2 linked regions of the Homo sapiens genome follow. The protein of the gene in region 1 interacts with the protein of each later gene in a pairwise test. Each region holds a gene or a part of one and is shown in the gene's direction. Other genes may lie near its edges.

Region 1 (7,025 bases):
TTTCTTAAAGACAGACTAAAACAGTAATGATATTTGTGAGAATTATCCTAAAATCATTTATCAGACACAATAATGAAGACTCTTTCAATGCTATAACAATTCAAGAGTGAAACTTCTTTAGTACATCCATGCTGAGCACTGTCTGGGCCAAGTGCTGATGTTTCCCAGGTTATTGGAGCCTGTAACTATATTTAGGATATGATTTGAAGTCATCAAAAATTTACAAAATATTTATATTGGGTAGTAGACAGATTATGACATGCCAGATTATTTTTTATTTAGTTTTTAAAACCACAAGTCCTTTTCTAAAAAGCTAGATTTGTTTTTGATCAAGATGATCCAATCTAAACAATTTTTTTCAACCCAAACCAAAGACCAAATATTTTCTTAAAAAAAGGAAAAACTACTTGACAACCAGGCTGTTAGAACTTTTAAGCTTTAAAATCCATAGATTTTATTTTGTTAAACTAAGATTTATTTTCTGCCAGAAAGCAAATGATTTTAAACTACAAGTGCTTCAAATTCAAACTCCTCAAGGTTCAAAAGGAGTTAAACGTCTTCTTCGATTTTTCATCTGTCACATAATGAGTGCAAAATCATTATTGCCCCCACTTTTTCACAGAACAAACTTGTTCTAAATCCTGAGATCAATCAGTGGTGAAAACCAAGCTTAGATATTAGACTTTATCTTACCTTCCTACCTCTTCAAAAGGAATATAATCACAAGCAAACTATTTTTGATGTTCCAGAATTTCTTCTCTCTAATTAAACAGTCTTTGGTGTATATATCAAGTTTTATTTTGCTGTGAATACATTTTTCAAGTTTCAGATCTTTTAAGCATTGCCTGCTAATCATCAGACCAAACAAATCAAAGGAATCATGAATTCTGCTGTGTCTGCTGTAAGGCATTGGAAGTCAGTAGGAGGTATTTTAAATTGCTTTACTTCCATCACAACATTATGCTTCCCATTTACTTATTCAGAATAGTATGCTTTTTTCCCTCTAGGAAAATATCTTTCATATCAAATATCTTTAATTTCTAAGATATTTGTTATAAGATTAAAAATACCTTTAGAATAATTTTTTCACAAGTCTATGTAACAGACAAATAACATTTTTGAGTTCGTAAACAACGAGGCGGCTTAAAATAGGCTCTAAGTTTTTACTACCTAGTTAATTTGATACAAAGGTTATAGGAACCACCTCAGATACCCCATTGCTTCAGTCATTATAAAACACTTACAAAAACACATTCCAGTATCTACAGCAATTCTAAGAGCTCATTAGCTGTGAATTCAAAAGGTGATGTGGCTTAAAAATAGTTACATGAGAAAAAATGCCCAAGATTTATCCATCTGATTCTAACTAAAGATTTCTCAGCCTTTTAAAAAGTAGAATTCATGGATTAAATTGGTTTAGAAAGAAAATATTATCTTATGCAGAACTAATTACATCTCAGGCAAAACACTGCACATCACACCTTAAGGCTCAATGTACAACCAGGGCTTATTCCATTGAGTTCTAATTCCCACAGCACCCCACTGCTAGATACAATATTGGAATTGCTTTCCAACTATTTTTTCCTTTGGCATTTATTCATTCATTCAACAAGGATTTTCAACTGCTTATCTGTGTAAGGTAACCTTGACTCAGTATGGCACTGATGGTGATGCACACAGGCTGTGGAATCAGACCATGCAGGTTTGAATCCTAGCTCACTATGGCCATGGCAAGTAACTTAATGACTGTAACCCTCACTAGTTGCTCATCTGAAAAGAGGGAAAGATAATAGTCTGTAGTATGTAGAGGTGTTGAGAATATTCAGAAGAGATCATCCTTAGCACGGTGGTAAGGACTGAAAAAACACTTAAGAAATGGTAGTTGTTATTAGCAAATAATGGTGCTTACCAATTCCATTCAGAATTACTGCTGTTGGATATTCTTGGACCTGGTGTAAAGCATTCAGGAAAAAGAAGAATTCTTTTAAGCATCCCTAAAGTTAGACAGGTAGTTATAAGAACATAGTATAGAAAATAGCTCTAACGGCAGATCTTTAAAAACCAAAATTAAGAAAATTCAGAGAAGTATGAGGAAGTGAAAAAAGAACCTGTGTGGTTTTTCTCCCCCATCTTCCTGAGTCCAATATGGCCCTGCCTCTGTTCTATTTCATTGTAGGAGAAAAATATACAATAATTTCCATTTCTTTCTACTTCTAATTAATTCCTATAGCCTTTGGCTTCTCATATTATTAATTTTTAATGACTTTTTGAGGAAAAGAACATCCTAACATAAGGTGAAAATAGAGTAGCCAAAAGCACCAGTTGTGGCATAGAAGACATGAAATGATCTTTTTTTTTTCTTTTTGCTTCCTTTTCTCCCCAGAGATACTAGGATCTCAAAAGAATCATGAAATGATCTGAATTGTAATGGCTCCCATGGTCATTGCCTTTTCTGTGGTCTTTGGCAGGTGATAACTTCAGGTGGGATAACATTTTGTGACCAGCTATGGCATAAAGAGTGTTTTCTGTGTAGTGGCTGTAGGAAAGATCTCTGTGAAGAACAGTTCATGTCCAGAGACGACTATCCATTCTGCGTGGACTGCTACAACCATCTTTATGCCAACAAGTGTGTAGCCTGTTCCAAACCCATTAGTGGTGAGTTCTTCAGTTCAATATGATCATGCCATGAGACAGTTATGACTTTATGAAACACTATCTAGTTAATTTAGGAAAAGCAATTAAAAAATGGGAAGCTTTCCTTTATATTTCCTTTTGAGATAAACACAAGTGGGTGCATATATATGAGTATAAATATTACATGGATTCCTCAAGGAAAGTACAAGAGTATAATTTGGGTGACTATACTCTGTGAAGGTAACTACATACTAAACCTAATGGTACTGACTCTAACATTCAAGGAAGGAGGAGAACAGGATGAGCTGAGAGGTTAGTGCAGGCCTTCACGAGGAGATCTGCTTGCAGCCTCATTAAGTTTTGAGTGGGAGGAGAAGAGTACTAATAAATCAAAATCCTGCTTAATTCTAAAATAGGACCAAGCATCCTTTAGTTAGGAAGGTTTTAATTAAATTCCACTATTGTATAGAACATCTGAAGCTGTAATAATTAAGGTAGCATAGGTCAGTAATTAATTAAACTTCATTTTAAGATGCTTCTAACAAATGTATTACTCTCTTTTCTCTATTCACTTGCAATTATGAAGTGTGTTTATGAGTAGATGAAAGAAAACAAGATAGCATTTTACTGAAAAAAAAATGTGACATGATTTGAAAATAACATAATGATAAATCAATCCATGTTAAAGAGGTTTTCAAGGTAAAAAGAAATACATCTTTTCCTCAGAGACACTTTTAAAATGCTAATCCTATAATAAAGGAACTGAAACTAGCATGACACTTGAGAAACTCAGCAGCTATTCTTTCTGGCAATTTATAATCACTTAATAATGTGTCAGAACTGTATATCTACTTTCTATTCCTAGTATTCTTAGAACATATTTCAATTTTTAGTTGTTCATATACCATAGAATTAAAGATCATTTTATCCCTTTCCTCCTTCTTCATCTTCAAATATGTGGCAAAATAAAAGTTGAGTCTTCATGCACTTTCCAACCAAAAGAAAAAGTTTCACAGCAAACCCCACCTTGGCAGGCTTTCACTGACTTGCAAAGGGAGGGAGGGTGTCACCAGAAAAAAACAGCATGGTCTTATTTGTCTATATGGAGCACCATCTGTGTCAGGATCTCACACTGGCTCACGGGCTACATCTGGCAAGCAGGCTGTTGATGTTTGGCCTGAACATGTTTGGAAATAACTAATGTAAAATCCATCTCTGCAGCTAAAAGTAGAGGAAGAGCCTGCCATTGGGTGAGCAGACTGCCTCCACATTCCCCAGCAGGGTCACCATCATATGGAACTCGTGGCTGTCCAATTGCATGGGGCATGCCCTCTCTGTCCCTTGCACCCTGTCTGCATCACTCAGCTAGATCACCTCCCTGGCCCTTGCAAGAACTTGCCTTAGCAATCCCACACCACTCGGCTCCAGGGTCCATGCTTTTAATTACCCTGCTCTCCTGCCTTCTACAAATTTGACAATTCCTATAGCCAAGAGATCTCCACTGATTTTAGTTAGAAAATGGGACTTTCAGATATCCAACAATACCTGGAGCTCCAGAATCTCCCAAGTAAAATCTGCAATCACAGTCCATTTATTTTATAACAACACTTATCTTGAATTGGGACAGAAAAAAAAAGGGGACTTCAATGAGAAAATAAGGAAATTAACAACTCAAAATAAGTTTCAAAATTCTCTGGAGATCCAGATGGCTAATACTGATCTGCAAAAAGCCTACACAAGCCCTGAACTTGAGTTTCAATTCTGGTATATCACAGATTCATGTGCCTAAGTGATTTTTTTCATAGATTGTTCCAGATCAATCACTGGGCCCAGCTTTTTAAAGTTGAGATGGAAAAACAACGTTGTTCTGCACAAAAACATGAGGATGATCAAAAGTAAATAATCTGACCCAAAAGTAATCTAAATTTTACCCAAAAGTAATCTAAATATTATATATTTAATTTAGACTCATCAGTCCACAGGAAATGTCTAATAACTATCTTAATCTTTTTTTTAACTTTGTGATTGAGACACCAGAGGCTGAAATGCCTGCAAAAACTTACAACTCACTTTACTATTTCTTCATCTAATTGTTAAATATCTATAGGCCCTGAAGTACTGCTTCTTTAAAATTGAGCTATTTGAACTGATGTACCATTGGGAATTCTGATATTGTCACACGTCTTCGGAAAATTGGCATTAATCTGATTATTATGTCACTTTAAAAGCTAGGTATTCTTGGTCAAAGGATACACAATTTCAGTTAAACAGGGGAAATAATTTCAAGATCTATTGTACAACATAGTGACTATAGTTAACAACTATGTATTATATACTTGAAAATTGCTAAGAGAATAGATTTTTAAATGTTCTCACCACACACACAAAAAAGCATATGATAAGGTAATAGATATGTTAATTGCCTTGATTTAGCCATTCCACAATGCATACATATACAAAAACATGTTATATAATATATGTACAATTTTTATTTGTCAATTAAGATTAATCAATTATTTTTTTAAAAAGCTCTGAGAAATCTACCCATAAATCACCAAGTGTAATTTTTAAAACCCATCACATTGAACTGCTTCATTTGAACAAACTCCAGATATAGCTACCATATTTTCTCCTCCTTTGAGATAGGATTAACCTCTTAAACTATCAGGGATAAATGAAGCTGCTTGATGCAGTGAAAGGTGCTCTGGACTGAGGAGCAAAAGACTTGGTCCTCCCTGCCCCCACTGCTGTGTCACCATGGGTGACTAACTCACCTCAGGGGTGGGGGGCCTTCATTTGCCTTATTTATAAAACAAGCAGTTGAGCAGGTTGGCTTTCTTCCATCTCTGTTTATTTCAAGGAAAAGGAATTTCAAATGTTGTGGCTTCTTCAGAGAGTGATGCTGATGTTCCTGATCATATTCTTTACCAAAGATAAACTCAAACTTAGTTTCATGAGGTTAAAAGCAGAGACTCTAAAGACAGATGGCCCTGGCCTGTGCTTAAATCTTAGATCTGCTGCTTACTAGCTGGGTGACCTGGGGCAAGCGGTTAAACTTCTCACTTCTCAGTTTTTGTCTGCAAAGTGGGGCTGATGCTAATATCTGACCCCATGAAGGTAAGGTGAGGGCTGTATACGGTAACACACATAAAGGACTTAGAATAGTAATTGGCACACAGTCAAGCACTCAACAAATGCCAGCTCTTATTCTACTGACTTGTCAGAAACCTATGAAACCAGATAACACAGGTGTCAAAGACCTGCTTCATGAATGGCTTTCTTACTGCAAACAACCCTCATGACCTAAGGGAGTAAACATATTCCTTTTGGAACAGTTTACATACATCTCACATGTTGGTTCAGCCCTTTCTTAAAGTTGCCAGATGCTTCTACTTTTTCTTATTTGTAAAATTCCGGAAGAATTGCTTTTATATTTGCCACTTGTACAAGGCTTACTAATAAAATTAAGAAAAACTCATGAGCATCAAAATGCTAGACATGTAATAATTAGTTTTATGAACAGCATAATTTATGTATATACAGAACATTACTCTTGCAGTCAGCTTATTAATGTTTTGAATAACATTAAGGGAATTAAGTAGTACATAATTAATTTACATTTATTAGGAAGTAATGTTGATAGCATCATAGATAAGCAAGCTATAAATTTAATCAAGGAAAGTAGAGAAATTTGATGCAATTTTCTGTATGAACTACTAAATTATATATGAAGACATCAAATAAGTTTGTTAGGATGGAAACAAAAGTTCATTATCCTATTTAAGAAGAATGTATCTGAAATAGAATGCTATTCACCCTTTCACTTCACCATTCCAAATGGAGTATTTGGAAATTACATATGAATTACATAACTCTTTTAGCCTCACTCCATGGATGATAAGCAAATAATAGCACTAAGATTACTGGGAGAAAACATGAAATAAATAAAGACCCAAGCCTAGGGCATCTCAACCTCTTCCCAAACCCTAACATTTTCTCCTTTAATGTAACTTCTCAAAATCAATTTCTTGAACTATACCCTGGAATCACATTAAGGAGACAGAGATCAGACCCTCACCGAAGATTCAAATTCGACTACTTTTTAAAGAAACAGTATGGTTCAAGTGAGGCCCAAGTTAAAGTGGAGGAGGCTGACAAAGCTCTTAGAAACCAATCACGTGATAACGTGGCTTCATTGGCCAGATTCAACAAAAGCTGAAGCTGGCTCTGAGCAAGGTAATAAGGCCATCACGTTAGGATGGCTGAATGATTAGACAAAATCCTCTATTTGGTTATGCTTTCTAGAAATAGTGTCCCAAACCGTATAACCCCAGGACATATTCTAAGTACAACTAAGCACAGAAAAATGAGGGGAAAGAAGAAAACTAAAA
Region 2 (6,901 bases), about 29 Mb from region 1:
TTCAGCTTTGTTTTGCTTTACTGGCTTGCAAATATGTGTCACACAGTGACCCTAGGTTGGCCTGCCTGCTGCCAGCCTGATGTTGGAAAAGGTATTGAAATGTACAAGGATCTTGCCCTTGGCCTCCACTCCTAGGGCGCAGCATTCTCACACATTTTAAGGCGTTACCAGCTCACAAAAGCCTTGTAGTCAGGGAAGGCAGCCCAACAAGGCTGCCCACAGATACACACGTGTTTGTCACCTGCCCCAGCAATTGCAAATAGAATAGCTCTTCTCAAGGCAACCTGTTTGTCCTCCCTTTGAAAGAGAAGGCTGTGTAAATAATTATATTTCAGATGTGGCAAAATATTGGAATTTTCAATTTGGACTATGCTCTTAGGCATCTCAGACTAACACAAAGTTTTCTAATTAACAGAGATGCCCTTATTTCACTGAGAAACCAAGCTAAAACTTTTAAATGGTGTCACATCTTGGTGACTTTCTAAGCCCATCAAATACCTGAGTGGCCAACGTTTTTTACGTAGCTGCGAGCAGCATCTCAAAGGATTTAGAGAAGCAACAAATAACAAAGTGTGACAGTCGATCTTGGAAAACCAGAGGGCTCTAATGAAGCAAAAAGTAGATGAAGAGGCATAAAAAAAATCCAGGTTCGTTCCAAAAAAGTTTTACAATTATAGCAAAGCAATCATTTCATCGGTTTGTGCAACAAAATTCAAAATCTGCGGGGCGAGATAATACTTGGCCAACATCGCCAAATTTATCAATACGGGTGTAAAAACTGTAACTTTTTATTAAATGGGTGTGAAAAGAGTCGGGGAGGAGGAACAGGACCACTAAATCTGGTATTTCCAGATCTCTGCATTCAACATCTCACTCCCACGCCATTAAGTTAAATAACATTTAGCACAAAACACAGGCTAGACCACCAATTTCGGGAGGGCGTCTGAGTCTTCCCTTCTCCATTCCCTTTAGATCGGCCGTCCTGGCCTTTCTTTCCTAACGGCATCTCCTTTCTAATAAAGTCCCTCGTATCTTTTGGTGTAATTAACTCATGGTACAAATCCTTCAAAAAGAAAGGAAAGAACTGCGGTTTGCTCTACGCGCGGACATCTTTTCTTCCTAAGCCTTCCCTTTCGCTGAAAAGGTTGTCGCAGAAGGGCGGGGAGGCTTGAAATCCCGCCGTTCCCTCATTCTTTCTCTTTTCTTTCTCTCCACATAACGCCTCCCCTACACCTCCCCACCTCCAATCCACTACCGTATTTAAGTCGGCGGGGGCGCTTTAAAGGGTTTCCTGTGTCTGTTTCTGTCTCTCTGACCCGAAACGCACTTTCGGTTATAGACAGACAAGGCGCTCAACCAAGGGACAGGCAAATGGAATAAACAGCTGAGGAGAATAAACGACCTAATGGGGAAATCTCGTGCTGCCTAATTGCTATTGTGTTTTGCAGATAAATAAGCATATTATTTTGATAGCGTTCAAAACCCTGAGCTCTCTTGCCCTATGCATTCTTAACAGACTTCTATGGCGCTTACTATATACCAGGCGCTGTTTTAAATGCTTTTAAAATACCACCTTCTTTGCTTAAAAAATATTTTTAACAGATTTAAAATTCCGTGTGTGCTTTCGAACTTCCCTGCTATACTCTTCTTTATACATAGTACAGCAGTTGTCTTCAAAGACAAATTGAAAAAAAACTTTAACCAGTTGCTACTTAATTGCCAGCAAATCGTTTCCCTCTGCAATTTTTCGCAATCATAATTAAATACACTAGTATAGTGGCAAAGAACTGTTAGATTTTTTTTTTTCAGTGATGATCTCAGGTTTTGCCTCAGGCGTTTGGACGCGCCCGCTAATTGCCCGTGTGGCAAACATGAGTTGCACCTGCAGGCATTTGAATTCAGAAAAACGTGCAGCCCTCACGGAAAGTTGTGACGGTCGAGCTTGAGCCTGGCGGGCCGCGGAGCGTTCACCTGCGGCCGGGAGGTACTGGCCCAGGGCGCTCGGGGCGGGAGGTGGCAGGCGACCGGCGCGCGTCAGGCTCGTCACCCGCTGGATTGCGGGGCCGGAGCGGGGACGGGGTCTGGGTCCTGGCCCGCCCTCGTGCAGCCGATCGGAGGCCCCGAACCCCGCGCCGACCCAGCCATCCGCCCTGAGGCCGACAGGGGAGCTGGGGTTCACCGACCCCCGCGGCCCCGCCGTCGGGCGCGGACCCCATCCAGCCCCACCTGGCCCCGCCGAGTGTGTGCTTTGCCTGGGGTTAAGTTTCAGAAGCCAAGATGGAACGATTCGGGTTTCTATTCACAAGGTTATTGAAGGCATGGCGGTGGGGACCGCGCAAAAGAGATGAGAGTGTGGGGGGAAAGGGGTTTCTGTTCTAATAAGGGCTTAGCACGCTGGCCGCAGGTCCTCCGCGCCGACCGGGCTCCTTCCCGCTCTCCCCCGGGCCAAACCCCGCCAGGGTCCCGTCTTTCCCAGTCGCGTCCTTTCCTCTTCTCCCCGCCCCGCGCCGGGCTTGTGTGGACAGAGAACGGAGTGTCAAAGGGACGCCCTGGGCCGATCCCCAGGAAGCTATGAATCCCTCCGTGACGGAGGGGTCTGGGGATCGATAGACGGCCCTTTCTCAGAGGCTCTCTCCACTACTGACCAAGCGGCCCTGCCAACGTGTGGTTTCCGGCTGGACCCCAACCCAGCCGCCGCCAGTCTCCCGGCGCCCCTGGCTGGGTCTCGCTCAGTCCCTGCCCTCGCAGACGCACAGCGGGGTGGCCAGTTCAAAAGTCCTACATAACTTGGAGAGAACCAGCAGCTAGAAAACCTGTTTTAAACACACAGCTTGAGTTTTATACAACCCACGTTGTCCAAGGCACGAACTGTTGGACACGAATTCATACTTTAGAAACCAAATCTAATTTCCAAGCGCCAATCTTCACCTCCCGGACTCTAACTCTGCGGCTGCGAGTGCATACACCAGGGGGACTGGAGGAGACTGGAGGCAATTATCTGGATAATCCAAGCCCGAAAAACTCGAACTTGAAAATATACGATTATGTCCTGAAATGCCCGCGTCATTGATCTAGTCTTTCCTACCATCAGAGCTGACACAGCTCCAGTCCACGGGCTTCTCCGCGGGGTCTAGGATCCACAGTCCCTGGGGGCTGAAGACCCAATGGAAGTAACTGATGGATCGCAAATTGGAAATCGTAACGTGGCCGACAGACCTGATCAGGAAAACTCGCGTCCTTATATGAAACAGCCCCGAGGCCGCGAAAGTAGCCTCAGGAGTTGTCAGATTCAAAAGCAATTTTGATTTAAGGTTTTCAAAAGCCCCAGAGGGCAAATGTGACCACTCGGGTCAGCCAGTCAGCAGTTTGGATCCAGACAGGGGACCACCGAGTGGGGCGGCCGAGGAGCCGCGGCGCCTCCCGACGTCACACGCGCCTGCTCGCACTTAGCCACGCGCTTGGGGTTATTCTTTACACTCAGGACTGAAACTTCGCCCGCGAGACCGCGGGGCGCGGAGGAGGGCCGAAACCCAAGGTCCAGGTCCAGGGCCCGCCCCCGCGCGCCCGCGTTGGCGCCCGCGCGCTCCCTCCGCAGGGGTTAGCAAGATTGCGCTCATTCTCGCCCCGGCTGCTCCCCACCCGCTCGCTGCTCTGGGGTACCAGGTCCGCGGCCGCGTTCCCACGCCTCGGCTGGAGCCTTGCGGCGGGCATTGGCGAGCGCGGCCCCGCCCCCTGGCCCAGCCAATCGCGAGCCACGCCGACCAGCGAGGGGGAGGTGCCGGGCGGAAGGCCTGGGCCGGTGCGCGGGGGCGGGTGAGGTGGCCCCACCCGCTCGAGGGGGGGGCGTGGCCGGCGCCGGCTCTTGCGGCCGAGCAGAGTTGCGGCGTGGGAAAGAGCCGCTAGGAGCAGACCGCGCCGCCGCCGGAGCCGCGCCTGCCCAGGCCCGGGGAGGGAGGAGGCGGGCGTCAGGGTGCTGCGCCCCGCTCGGCGTCCGAGCTTCCGGCCGGGCTGTGCCCCGCGCGGTCTTCGCCGGGATGAAGCGCCCCTGCGAGGAGACGACCTCCGAGAGCGACATGGACGAGACCATCGACGTGGGGAGCGAGAACAATTACTCGGGGTGAGCGCGGGCTCCGCGGGAGCGGCCCGCAGCTCGGGAGCTTGGGGTAGCTTTGTGAATGCGTGGCTCCCTGGAAATCCCGAGGCTGGTCTCCGCAGCATCTAGGTAGAGAGGGAAAGTTTGGCCTGAGAAAGTTTGAGTGGTGGGCGCTCGCAGAGCGTGAGTTGGGATGGGGCAAGGGATGTGGATTTTCACCGTAGGGGTGGAGTAGCCAGGATGGGAGACGCCACTGAAAGGCAGAGCGCAGGAGTTGGCGAGGGAGGGTCCTGGCTGTCACAGTTGGACGCGCGAACGGCAGCGTCTGGGCGACAGGCGATGTCCCAGCCACTGAAACCGTATTTGGGGGCACTTTCAAAATAGATCAGGAGAAAATAAAAACAATTTGATTTTTGATTTTTAGAGATACCAAAATCACAACTTGATTTTTGGAGGAATTAAAGCAACCTGCGATGTCAAGGCTACGTAGGTTGAACTTTGCAGGTTGACCGTGTGTGACTTGGCTAACGCAAGAGTGAGTGACAGATGTAAGCATCGGAAAGGGCATCATTTCTTTGACTGCTTGTTCTCAAGTCTGGAAGAGATCGGCGTCGTAATCACAGAAGCCAGACCTCCACTTTCCTGTGACAGAGGGAGATTACCGAGGCATTTTAGAGCCAAGGCGGGTCAAATGATAATTGCTTCTAATTGGCATCCCCAGAAGCACCTTAATTATTTATCTGCAGCTGTCACTCAAAGAGGGAAATTCTTCCTACCTTTGGAAAACTGGTTTTCTTTCATATTGTTATTCTAATACATACAAAGCAAAGCACAAAATCTGCAAGAGCAAAGATATTTACACGAAAGCAAAGGTTTAAGTATCTGATCATTAAAGTGTTGTTGTGCCGTCTTTAAAAATGAGGTCTGAAAAACAGAAGCTATCACGTGAAAGGTGAAACCCGTAAAGAAGGGGTGAAAATGAGGGGGACAGGTAATTCAGAAATAAGATCCAGAAGTGAGAAGGTGAGGTAATAGCAACCTGGTGTGTGCAGCATTTCTAAAATGAAAGAGAACAAATAACAGGAACCTGGGGAATTTGAGAACACAAAGAAGCATAGTATCCATGAATTATGAAGAGAAACAGATACAAACTAGAAAGGATTGTAAAAATTATGTGACCAAATAATACTTTGATTGAACCTTCAATATAAAAATATATTTTCATTAGTAAATCCAAGGTGCATTGCAGCTTCTGGAGATTTAAGCTTAGCCTAAAGTCTGAGACACACCTACAGTTTCATTTTCAAAGTAAAACATTCACCTAGTAATAAAATGAGTTTTAATTTTCCTATCAGTGGCATATTTAGGGCATATTTTTGGAAGATTAGTATGCAAAACATCAAGTTTGTCAATTTTTTCCTGTTGCAATATATGACTAACTGAAGTTTTGAAACAGTAAGATAACTTCTATTTATTTTAAAGTTTGCACCTAGAGACAAGAGTTTGACGTATGACGACTGCACATCTGTTTGATAGTGGTGCTTAACATAACCCTGATTTGAAAAAGTGGCATTATTTTGTTCAGTGTGCCTGACAGGAGGGAGAAGGAAAGCTATTTGAGATTAGTTGACTTTAAAATATATGAGTGGAACTAGGAAATGCTAATATCTAACTTCTCAGCCCAACTGCCGGTAATTATTTCACTGGGAGACTTTCAAGTAAAAATTGTGGGACATTTTGGCCAATGGGTTAGCATCTGGATTACAAATTAAGGCGTAATTTTTACCTGAAAAGAGACAGCCGGGCTGAAAGCAAAGTCCGTTAAGAGTGAAACAAGAACTAAGAATAAAATAACACAGACTTGAACTGTGCAATCACTCTGAATATTTAATGGGTGCCACAAGTACCCAGAAGAAACTATTGTTATGTTAATGCAGCACCTGACATACTCTTCTTATTTCATAGGCAAAGTACTAGCTCTGTGATTAGATTGAATTCTCCAACAACAACATCTCAGATTATGGCAAGAAAGAAAAGGAGAGGGGTATGTGATTTTTCCCCCTTTTTATTTCATGTAACTTATACTATTGTGTAACAGTTACATTTTTTCATTTGAGTAATTTTATCATTTGTGAATTCATAAACTTTTGTTGTTTGCTTCTTTTGGATAGATTATAGAGAAAAGGCGTCGGGATCGGATAAATAACAGTTTATCTGAGTTGAGAAGACTTGTGCCAACTGCTTTTGAAAAACAAGTAAGCTATCCCCTCCCCAGAATCCCCCCACCCACCCCGCCACCCCCCAAAAAAAAGCTCAAACACAATCTGATTCGCTCATCTGGGAATGTGGGTTCTTGTTAAAGCTCATTAAAATAATAGTGTATGTGCCCTGATCTGGCACAGAGCAGCTATTTCAATAAAATGCTTTGTTGTGGCAAAACTATTAAAAACATAATCCATCATGAAGTTGAAAAACATTTCCATTCTTTAGCTTATTTTCCCCTTAAGGGTAACAGTGTTCATGCTTTCTCTGTTCTTTCTATGAATACCAGTAGTGGTTTTATTTAAAACTGTGCTGTATACCGTATCCTTCAAAAAAAAAAAAAAAACCATTTTTTTCTCAAAATTTTTTTAAAATGTAATATTTTTAATTAAAAAACAATCAGAGCCCAAGAAGTAACATCTCTAGCTCTATTTCCTAAATGATAATACCACTAAAATTTATTTACCAAGCCATTTGCTTTCATTTTTAATCCCTGGGTTGGTAGAATGCCATTTGATTTGGGTCATCTTTTTAGAAGTTTGGTAA

Evidence for each region.
Region 2: the proteins of FHL5 (region 1) and HEY2 interact in binary tests that used the Homo sapiens proteins (3 or more experiments, as listed by UniProt).

The regions. Positions count from the first base shown.
Region 1 is NC_000006.12:96,608,104-96,615,128, forward strand, and holds part of FHL5 (four and a half LIM domains protein 5), read left to right. Parts: intron 1-2,468; coding exon 2,469-2,655; intron 2,656-7,025. UniProt on the Homo sapiens protein: May be involved in the regulation of spermatogenesis. Stimulates CREM transcriptional activity in a phosphorylation-independent manner.
Region 2 is NC_000006.12:125,745,743-125,752,643, forward strand, and holds the start of HEY2 (hairy/enhancer-of-split related with YRPW motif protein 2), read left to right. Parts: upstream 1-3,889; 5' UTR 3,890-4,034; coding exon 4,035-4,117; intron 4,118-4,127; exon of another isoform or gene 4,128-5,784; intron 5,785-6,058; coding exon 6,059-6,137; intron 6,138-6,264; coding exon 6,265-6,348; intron 6,349-6,901. UniProt on the Homo sapiens protein: Downstream effector of Notch signaling which may be required for cardiovascular development. Transcriptional repressor which binds preferentially to the canonical E box sequence 5'-CACGTG-3'.